Linked DNA regions of Homo sapiens: region 2 is linked to region 1. The links come from fine-mapping of genetic effects on gene expression. Tissue or cell type: whole blood. Region 1 holds a variant in brackets; the other region holds the start of a gene. All regions are shown on one strand. Distances are between the middles of the regions.

What was found. PIP is the estimated chance that this variant, and not a neighbour inherited with it, causes the effect.
Region 2: it holds the start of APPL1, and the variant in region 1 is fine-mapped to the expression of APPL1 in whole blood (INTERVAL, PIP 0.98).

Annotation. Positions count from the first base shown.
Region 1 is chr3:57,260,186-57,264,586 of GRCh38, reverse strand. APPL1 (adaptor protein, phosphotyrosine interacting with PH domain and leucine zipper 1) reads right to left here. Exons shown (of 22, transcript NM_012096.3): 19 at 3,813-3,959. Among named protein-coding and RNA genes, the nearest start is that of ASB14, 30 kb to the left of the region's middle. The variant T/C (reference allele first, on the strand shown) is at 2,663.
Region 2 is chr3:57,225,164-57,229,564 of GRCh38, reverse strand. APPL1 (adaptor protein, phosphotyrosine interacting with PH domain and leucine zipper 1) reads right to left here and starts at 1,836. Exons shown (of 22, transcript NM_012096.3): 1 at 1,628-1,836. The coding sequence starts at 1,681. It also overlaps a transcript of HESX1 not described here. RefSeq lists a silencer at 1,379-2,038.

The DNA.
Region 1 (4,401 bases):
TTTTATTTTTTTTATTTTTTTTTAAATTTTTTTAAATATAATTAAAATGGATTAAAGCCTTAAATCTAAGACCTTGAACTATGAAACTACTACAAGAAAATATTGGGGAAACTCTCCAGGACATCAGTCTGGGCAAAAATTTCTTGAGTAATACCCCACAAGCACAGGCAACTAAAGCAAAAATGGACAAATGGGATCTCATCAAGTTAAAAAGTTTCTGCACTGCAAAGGAAACAATCAACAAAGTGAAGAAACAAGCCACAGAATGGGAGAAAATATTTGTAAACTACTCATCTGACAAGGGATTAATAACCAGAATATACAAAGAGCTCAAACAACTCTATAGGAAAAACCTTAATCTGATTTAAAACTGGGCAAAATATTTGAATAGACATTTTTCAAAAGAAGACATACAAATGGCAAACAGGCATATGAAAAGGTCCTCAACATCACTGATCATCAGAGAAATGCAAATCAAAACTACAATGTATCATCTCACCCCAGTTAAAATGGCTTATAGCAAAAAGGCAATAACAAATGCTGGGAAGCATGTGGAGAAAAGGGAACCCTTGTACACTGTTGGTGGGAATGTAAATTAGTATAACCACTATGGAGAAAAGTCTGGAGGTTCCTCAAAAAACTAAAAATAGAGCTACCATATGATCCAGCAATCCCACTGCTGGGTATATACCTAAAAAAAGGAAATCAGTATATTGAAGAGACATCTGCACTCCCATGTTTGCTGCAGCTCGGTTCACAATAGTTAAAACTTGGAAGCCACCTAAGTGTCCATCAACAGATGAATGGAAAAAAAAAAAAAACAACAGATGAATGGATAAAGAAAATGTACACACACACACAATGGAGTACTATTCAGCCAGAAAAAAAGAATGAGATTCTGTCATTTGAATGGATGATACATGGATAAAGAAAATGGATAAAGAAAATGTGGTACTTACATACAATGGAGTACTATTCAGCCATAAAAAAGAATGAGATTCTGTCATTTGCAATAAGATATATGGAACATGGAGGTCATTATGTTAAGCAAAATAAGCCAGGCACAGAAAGACAAATATTGCATGTTTTCACTTATCTGTGGGATCTAAAAATCAAAACAATTGAACTCATGGAGCCAGAGAACAGAAGGGTGGTTACCAGAGGCTGAGAAGGGTAGTGTGGGGATGGGGGGTGGGAGGATGGTTAATGATTAAAAAAAAAAAATAGAATGAATAAAACCTGGTATTTGATAGAACGGGGGACTACGGTCAATAATAATTGTACATTTAAAAATAACTAAAAGAGTATAATTGGATTGTTTCTAATACAAAGGATAAATGCTTAAGGGAAGGAATACTCCATTTTCCATGATGTGGTTATTACGCATTGCATAAGTGTAGCAAAATATTTCATGTACTGCATAAATATATACACCTGGCTGGGCGAGGTGGCTCACACCTGTAATCCCAGCACTTTGGGAGGCCGAGGCAGGCGGATCATCTGAGGTCGAGAGTTTGAGACCAGCCTGACCAACATGGAGAAACCCTGTCTCTACTAAAAATACAAAATTAGCTGGGCGTGGTGGCGCATGCCTATAGACCCAGCTACTCAGGAGGCTGAGGCAGGAGAATCGCTTAAACCCGAGGGGGCGGAGGTTGCAATGAGCCAAGATCGCGCCATTGCACTCCAGCCCAGGTGACACAGCAAGACTCCATCTGGAAAAAAAAAAAAAAATGCATACACACACACACACACACACACACACACACACACCCCTTGTACCCACAAAAAACGAAAAACAAAGATCATCCTACTTTCACCATTTTAGCTCTAATTAGTCTCTTGAGAAACTTTGTTAGTACGATATTCTCAATAATTGTTCTATTAAAGGTTCTTTTTCCAGCTGGGTGTGGCAGCTCATGCCTGTAATCCCAGCACTTTGGGAGGCCAAGGCAGGTGGATCACTTGAGGTCAGGAGTTCAAGACCAGCCTGGCCAACATGGTGAAATCCTGTCTCTACTAAAAAAATTAGCCGGGCATGGTGGCACACAACTGTAGTCCCAGCTACTTGGGAGCTGAGGCAGGAAAATCACTTTAATCCAGGAGGTGGAGGTTACGGTGAGCCAAGATTGTGCCACTGCACTCCAGCCTGGGCAACAGAGCAAGAGTCTGTCTCAAAAAAAAAAAAAAAAAAAAAAAAAGGTTATTTTCCATAGAAAAAAAAAACACTAGAAGAAAATGAAGGGAAAACTCTCCTGCACATTGGTCTCGGCAAAGATTTTATGCCTAAGACCTCAAAAGTATAGGCAATAAAAATAAACAAATGGGACTTAAACTAAAAAGTGTCTGCATAGCCAAAGAAATAACAGAGTAAACAGACAACCTGTTGAATGGGAGAAATTATTTGCAAACTGTTCATCCAACTGGGGACTAATATCCAGAATATACAACGAACTCAACAGGGAAAAAATCAAATAATCCCACTTAAAAGTATGCAGAGGATATGAATATGCATTTCTTAAAGGACACAAAAACAGCCAACAGGTATATGAAAAGATGCTCGACATTACTAATCATTAGAGAAATGCAAATCAAAATGACAATGAGCCATTCTTACCCTAGTCAGAATGGCTATCACTAAAAAGACAAAAAATAGCAGATG[T/C]TGGTGAAATGCAGAAAAAAGGGGAACTCATACACTGTTGGTGGGAACATAAACTAGTACAACCACTATGGAAAACAGTATGGAGATCTCTCAAAAAACTAAAAATAGACCGGGTATGGTGGCTCACGCCTGTAATCCCAGCACTTTGGGAGGCTGAGGCAGGCAGATCACGAGGTCAGGAGATCAAGACTATCCTGGCTAACACGGTGAAACCCCGTCTCTACTAAAAATACAAAAAATTAGCCGGGCATGGTGGCAGGCACCTGTAATCCCAGCTACTCGGGAGGCTGAGGCAGGAGAATGGCGTGAACCCAGGAGGCAGAGGTTGCAGTGAGCCAAGATCGCACCACTGCATTCCAGCCTGGGCGACAGAGTGAAACTCCGTCTCAAAAACAACAACAACAACAAAAACTAAAAATAGAACTACCATTCGATCCAACAATCCCACTACTGGGTATCTACCCAAAATTAAAGAAATCTGTATCAAAAGGATACCTGCACTCACATGTTTACTGTAGTACTATTCACAATAGCAAAGATATTAAGTCAATCTAAATGTTCATTAACAGATAAATGAATAAAGAAAATGTGGTACATATACACAATGGAGTACTATTCAGCCATAAAAAGAATGAAATCATGTCATTCACAACAACGTGGATGGAACTAGAAGTCATTATCTTACGTGAAATAAGCCAGGCACAAAAAGACAAATATCACATGTTCTCACTTGTATGTGGGAGCCAAAAAATTGATCACGTGGAGGCAGAGTGTGGAATGACAGACAACAGAGACTGGGAAGGCTGAGTGATGAGGAAAGGGGGAGGATGAAGAAAAGCTGATTAAAGGGTACAACCATAAATTACGATAGAAAGAATATATTTAATATCTGACAGCAGAGTAGGGTGACTATACTTCACAAAAATGTATTGTACTTGGATGATGGACACCCTAAATACCCTGACTTGCTTACTGTACATTCTATACATGTAACAAAATTCACATGTGCCTCATAAATTTGTATAAATTGTAAAGAATTCAATCAGTAATTACTAACTAATTTAATTTGTAAGAATTTAATTATTATTAAATCTTAGTAAGAATCAATTAGTAAGTGGTTATGACAGAGATATTCTGAAAAGCCATGTACCTTTTCCCCCTCATTGTTTGACTCAAATATATAGCAGACTGATGACAGATTACTTTCACTTCTCCCGCTTGATGTCCGAAGAACAAATCCAAAAAGGCGCTTATTTTCCTGGTGTGTAGCATACAAAACTACACAAGGTAATGGAAACTGCCACAGAAAACATCAGAAGCAAACATGAGATCTTACAAGTCATTACAGCAGCACTTGTGACAAACTCATATGCTAAGTTCTAAAAATATAAATATTTTAATATATTAAAGCCAATTATTTTAACAGACTTGTAATGCAGAAACAAGTAATGTCATATTTGGTTTGAATTAACAAGCAGAAAAAGGTTGTTGAATATTACATTTGTTTTATTAGTCATTAACACATTTTACAAAGTCAAAAAGAACTGTGTTAAAAAAATTACAAAAAGAATTGTGTTAATTCTTTTAAGTTACATAAAATGTTCAATGACAACTTTTTGGAGATGGCCATAGACTTAACTACAACAGCCAAAGACCAATCATAGCTGATACTATCACACTTGAATATACAGGATCAGGATTATTATCAAGTTGTAAGATGTGTATATATACAAAGGGAC
Region 2 (4,401 bases), 35 kb after region 1:
AACATAGCAAGATCCCCATCTCAAAAAACAAACAAATATATTGTAAAACGGACACTAGTATGATGCATGCTTGTAAAGAAAAAAAAAAACCACAATTCTTAAGTTGTAAACTAATCTGGCAAAAACCTCAAGACATTAGATGAGTCAAGAGTTTATCTCTGCCTCACAAGTCATTTCCAGGGCAGTGTGCAATCCATTCTGAGCCGTTTATAGTCTTTATGGGCTATTAAAAAAAAAAGCCAAGTAAGAGAAGAAAGGTAAGGCAACCTGTTGAATCTTACATAATAAAAAGTAAAATGACAAAGTACACCTGACCAATTCCACAAACTTTTTGCAAATCATCTGAAACAAATACAGTTTATAACTTTATATGGAGAAATCATCAAGAAAAAAATTGAACCGAGTATACTGGCAGTCAAGATAAACCAAATGTGAGTTTCTCTTTTTGTCACTATCAGCTGTTAAGAGTACATTAGCAGCAGGCAACTGGCCTGTGAAGATAACTTTCAGAATAAAAAAGAACAAATCAATTCTACAATCAGAGCCCCATTTCAACTTGGCAATTAACATTGGCACAAAATCCATGGCAGAAGTGCCATCCAGGAAAAGGAGATCTAGACCTCTTCTGCTTTTCTTCTTTGGGGGCCATGTTCAACTGTAAAGACACACGAAATGGTGCAACTGCATTTCTAAATCAGCAACAATTCAGAAATGTTTCATTCTAAATAGTGTCCAACCAGCAACACCGTCTTAAACCGTTTAAATTATCGTGTAAAACGGCTTAGAGATGAAGTTTTCCCTATGCAAGTTACAGCCCCTGCCAACATTTTAAAAAATATAGCTGCTTTCATTCTGCAGTACTGAAAACATATTAAATGGTTACATTTTCCAAAACTGTCTTAAGCTAGAGCAACCACATCAGCATCATTCCGACGCACAGAACACAGGGCTTTTATTTTGATGAGTTTATTAAGGCCAAGTCTGCAGGGAGCAGCGCAGCAGTCGCGGAGCGGCGAAGGCACCGTCCATCCCTCGCCGTGCACAGCTCGAGTGACAGCGACCACAGTCACGGCCGCGACACGGGCACATTCGGCGGGGAGAGCGGTCTTGGGCTCCGGGACCCGTCACGGGCTTTGCCATTAGGGCTCCACACACAACCTTACAGCCTCTCCCAAAGAAAAACGATCCATTTCCTTCCTTAGCTTGCTGAGCCTCGGAAATCATTAAATAAGACTATCGGGGTTTCTCTCCCTTCTGCAATTTTTCTGAAGAGGTTCTCAGGGAGAAAATTCCAGGATCGAGATTTGGCACCTCACATCACCGCGATAAAAACGGCGCCTTTCGTCAAATAAAAAGGACCCGCGCGCGTACGTGACCGCCCGGCCCACGAGCACCAGCGGCTCGGTCTCCGCCTGCGGCCCTCGGCCCAGCCGAGCAGGCCCACGCGGGCCTTGGGCGGCGGGCCCAGCCTCCACAACTCCGGGCGCGGCCTGCGACGGGCGGTGACCTAGGGCGGCGGCGGCCCCCACCTGGGCCGGGGCGGGCACCTGCGGGAGCCGCGGAGGCGCCAGACCTGGGGTCGGCCAGCTGGGCTCTCCCTCGTCGCCCACCAGCTCCCGCGCCTCACCTGCGGGCTGTCCTCCAGCGTCTCCTCGATGGGCAGCTTGTCGATCCCCGGCATCGTGGCGGAGGGAGGGCGGTGGCAGGAGACGCAGCTGCCGCCCACAGCTCCCCGCGCCGGCCCGCCCGCCGCAGCTGACCCCGGCCCGCCCTCTCCGGCAAGGGCTGCAGCCGTCCCCGCCCGCACAGCCTTCTCCAGGCGCCGAGCGGCCGTGCGGGAAATCCCGCCCCCTCGGCCTCCCTGCCCCGCCTCCCGGCGCGTCCATTGGCTCCCGGGGACGCCCATCCGCGCTGCGGCGGTGGTCGGGAGGTTCCCGTGCGGCGCTAGGCTCTCCCGCGAGCGCGGGCGTCGGAAGCGGCGGAGGTGGCAGTGTCTGCCCTGGGATGGCCTTCCCTGCACGCGCGCGTTTGTATCTAAATCGCAGGGGACCGTCTCTTCCTCAGCTTGCCGGCGCGAGGAGCCAGAGCCTCGAGTTAGGGCCACACGGGGGAATTTGGGGCGGGTTGACTTTTCCCGCAACATATTTTGTCAGAGACCTTGGAGAAAGTCCTACTGCTGGCGCCTTTTAGTTTCCTCAGATGATAACATTCCCAACTCCGCTCGAAGCGTCCAGTCTTAATCCCCTCCAGCAGAATGGTGCTGACTAACTCAGATGTCTGAGATCCGCAGCTGTGTCAATAATAGGGCTTTCTGGCAAACTTGTGAACGTAGGCTCGAAATTGTTTTTCTGGACGCTTGAATATCAGTATATTCAGTTGAAAACATGTGATTTTGTTGCCAGTTTATCAGTTCCTACCTGGCCTCCCGAGGTCAGTCCTTCAGGACTGACGCTGCAACTCCAACTCCCATGTTTCTTTTAAATCACAAAGGAAAATATCTTTTAAAAATCAGGATACACTGATTAATTATGTTAGTAACTAATTGGCATTTGTTGAATCAAAAAGTTTTGGAAGCGTTAAATAGTTTTAGCCTCTAATTTTACAATAAAGTGAAGCTCAAAGTTGGGAATTTGACCGGATGAGGGCTACAAGCCTATCCTTTCCTCCTCCCTCTTCATCTTTCCCAACCTGTCACCCTGGCTCGTTTATGTCTCTGTATAGTTGTAGGCTTTCATCATTATACAGAGAAAATAACAAAGTAAGTAGTGTCTTCTAAACATCTAGCCATTAATTCCACCAATCCATTCCATTTTCATTCAAGAAATACCAGAGATGCTGAGTAAAGATTAATTAGCTGCCTGGTTCCACAGATACATGGGAACAAATCCAGAATAGTAGTAGCTCAAATCCAAATATAGTAACAAATAGAAGTTATATATTTTAAACGAAAATAGTAGATTTTCCCATGATCTCTTGAAAGAAAAATAAAATTATATTTTTAAAGTTTTGTTGAGTAGACTTGCATTGTAGTTTTACGGAATTATTTTTAGTGTTACAATCTTTAAAAGTTTTCCCCTTAGATTGTTTATCAGCCAGTCTCTCTCTCCCGAAGAGTTCTTTAGTTTTTGAGGAAGTTGATTTGGAGGCAGTTCTTACAATGAGTTAAGGGTTCCCAGTTGTGTTACAGTTTCTTTTTCCTTGATATCTCATTTCTACTCTGCCAACAAGAACACCATGCACCCCAGCTCTAAAGAAGGAAGACTTTCAAGGTAAGTGACCTTCCTGATTGAACTGAGTTAGATTTTAAATGAAGAAAGGTTGTGGCAACTGTTAAGAATCAGGAGTAAGTGAGGAGTGTAAACAATGTATAAGAAAGAAAAAAAAAAAGGCCTGGCGCTGTGGCTCACGCCTGTAATCCCAGCAATTTGGGAGGCCGTGGCAGCTGGATCACCTGAGGTCAGGAGTTCAAGACCAGCCTGCCCAACATGGCGAAACCCAGTCTCTACTAACAATACAAAAATTAGCCGGGCGTGGTGGCGTGCCTGTAGTCCCAGCTACTCAGGCGGCTGAGGCAGGAGACTCAGTTGAAGCCGGGAGGCCCAGGTGCAGTGAGCTGAGATCATACCACTGCGCTCCGGCCTGGGCGACAGAGCAAGACTACGTATCAAAAAAAAAAAAAAAAAGAAAAGAAAAGAAAAGTATTTGTTACCTAATTAACTTGGCCAAACCAAATAATTCCGATGAAAAATTCGATTAGTTATCTGAATTATCTGGGTGTGGTATTGTCAAGTTAAATGGTTTCCTTCTTAGTATGTTATGTACATCTAAACTGTGTTTCTGTAAAGGACTCTCAAGAGGCCATTACATTATCGCAGAATGGCAAGGAATTCTTGCCGGACTCAGCTGGTTAAAAAATAAAACAGGCTGGGCGCGGTGGGGCTCACGCCTGTAATCCCAGCACTTTGGGAGGCTGAGGCAGGCGGATCAAGAGGTCAAGAGATGGAGACCATCCTGGCCAACTGGTGAAACCCCGTCTCTACCAAAAATACAAAAATTAGCTGGGCATGGTGGCACACGCCTGTAGTTCCAGCTCTTTGGGAAGCTGAGGCAGGAGAATCGCTTGAACCCGGGAGGTGGAGGTTGCAGTGAGCCGAAACTGCACTCCAGCCTGGGCGACAGAGCGAAACTCTGTCTCAAAAACAAAAAATAAATAAAAATGAAAAAATAAAACAAACAAAAACAGGTTCACATTCAGTTGGATGGAGAGGTAGGTTTAGTCAAATCTAGTTTTAACCTATTTGTACTAGAATCCAGTTTTAACCTTCCATTTGGATTCTCTAGCTTTAGGCCACTGTATACCCTGCTCATCCAAAAATATGGTTGTATTTCCTAAGTTAAAAC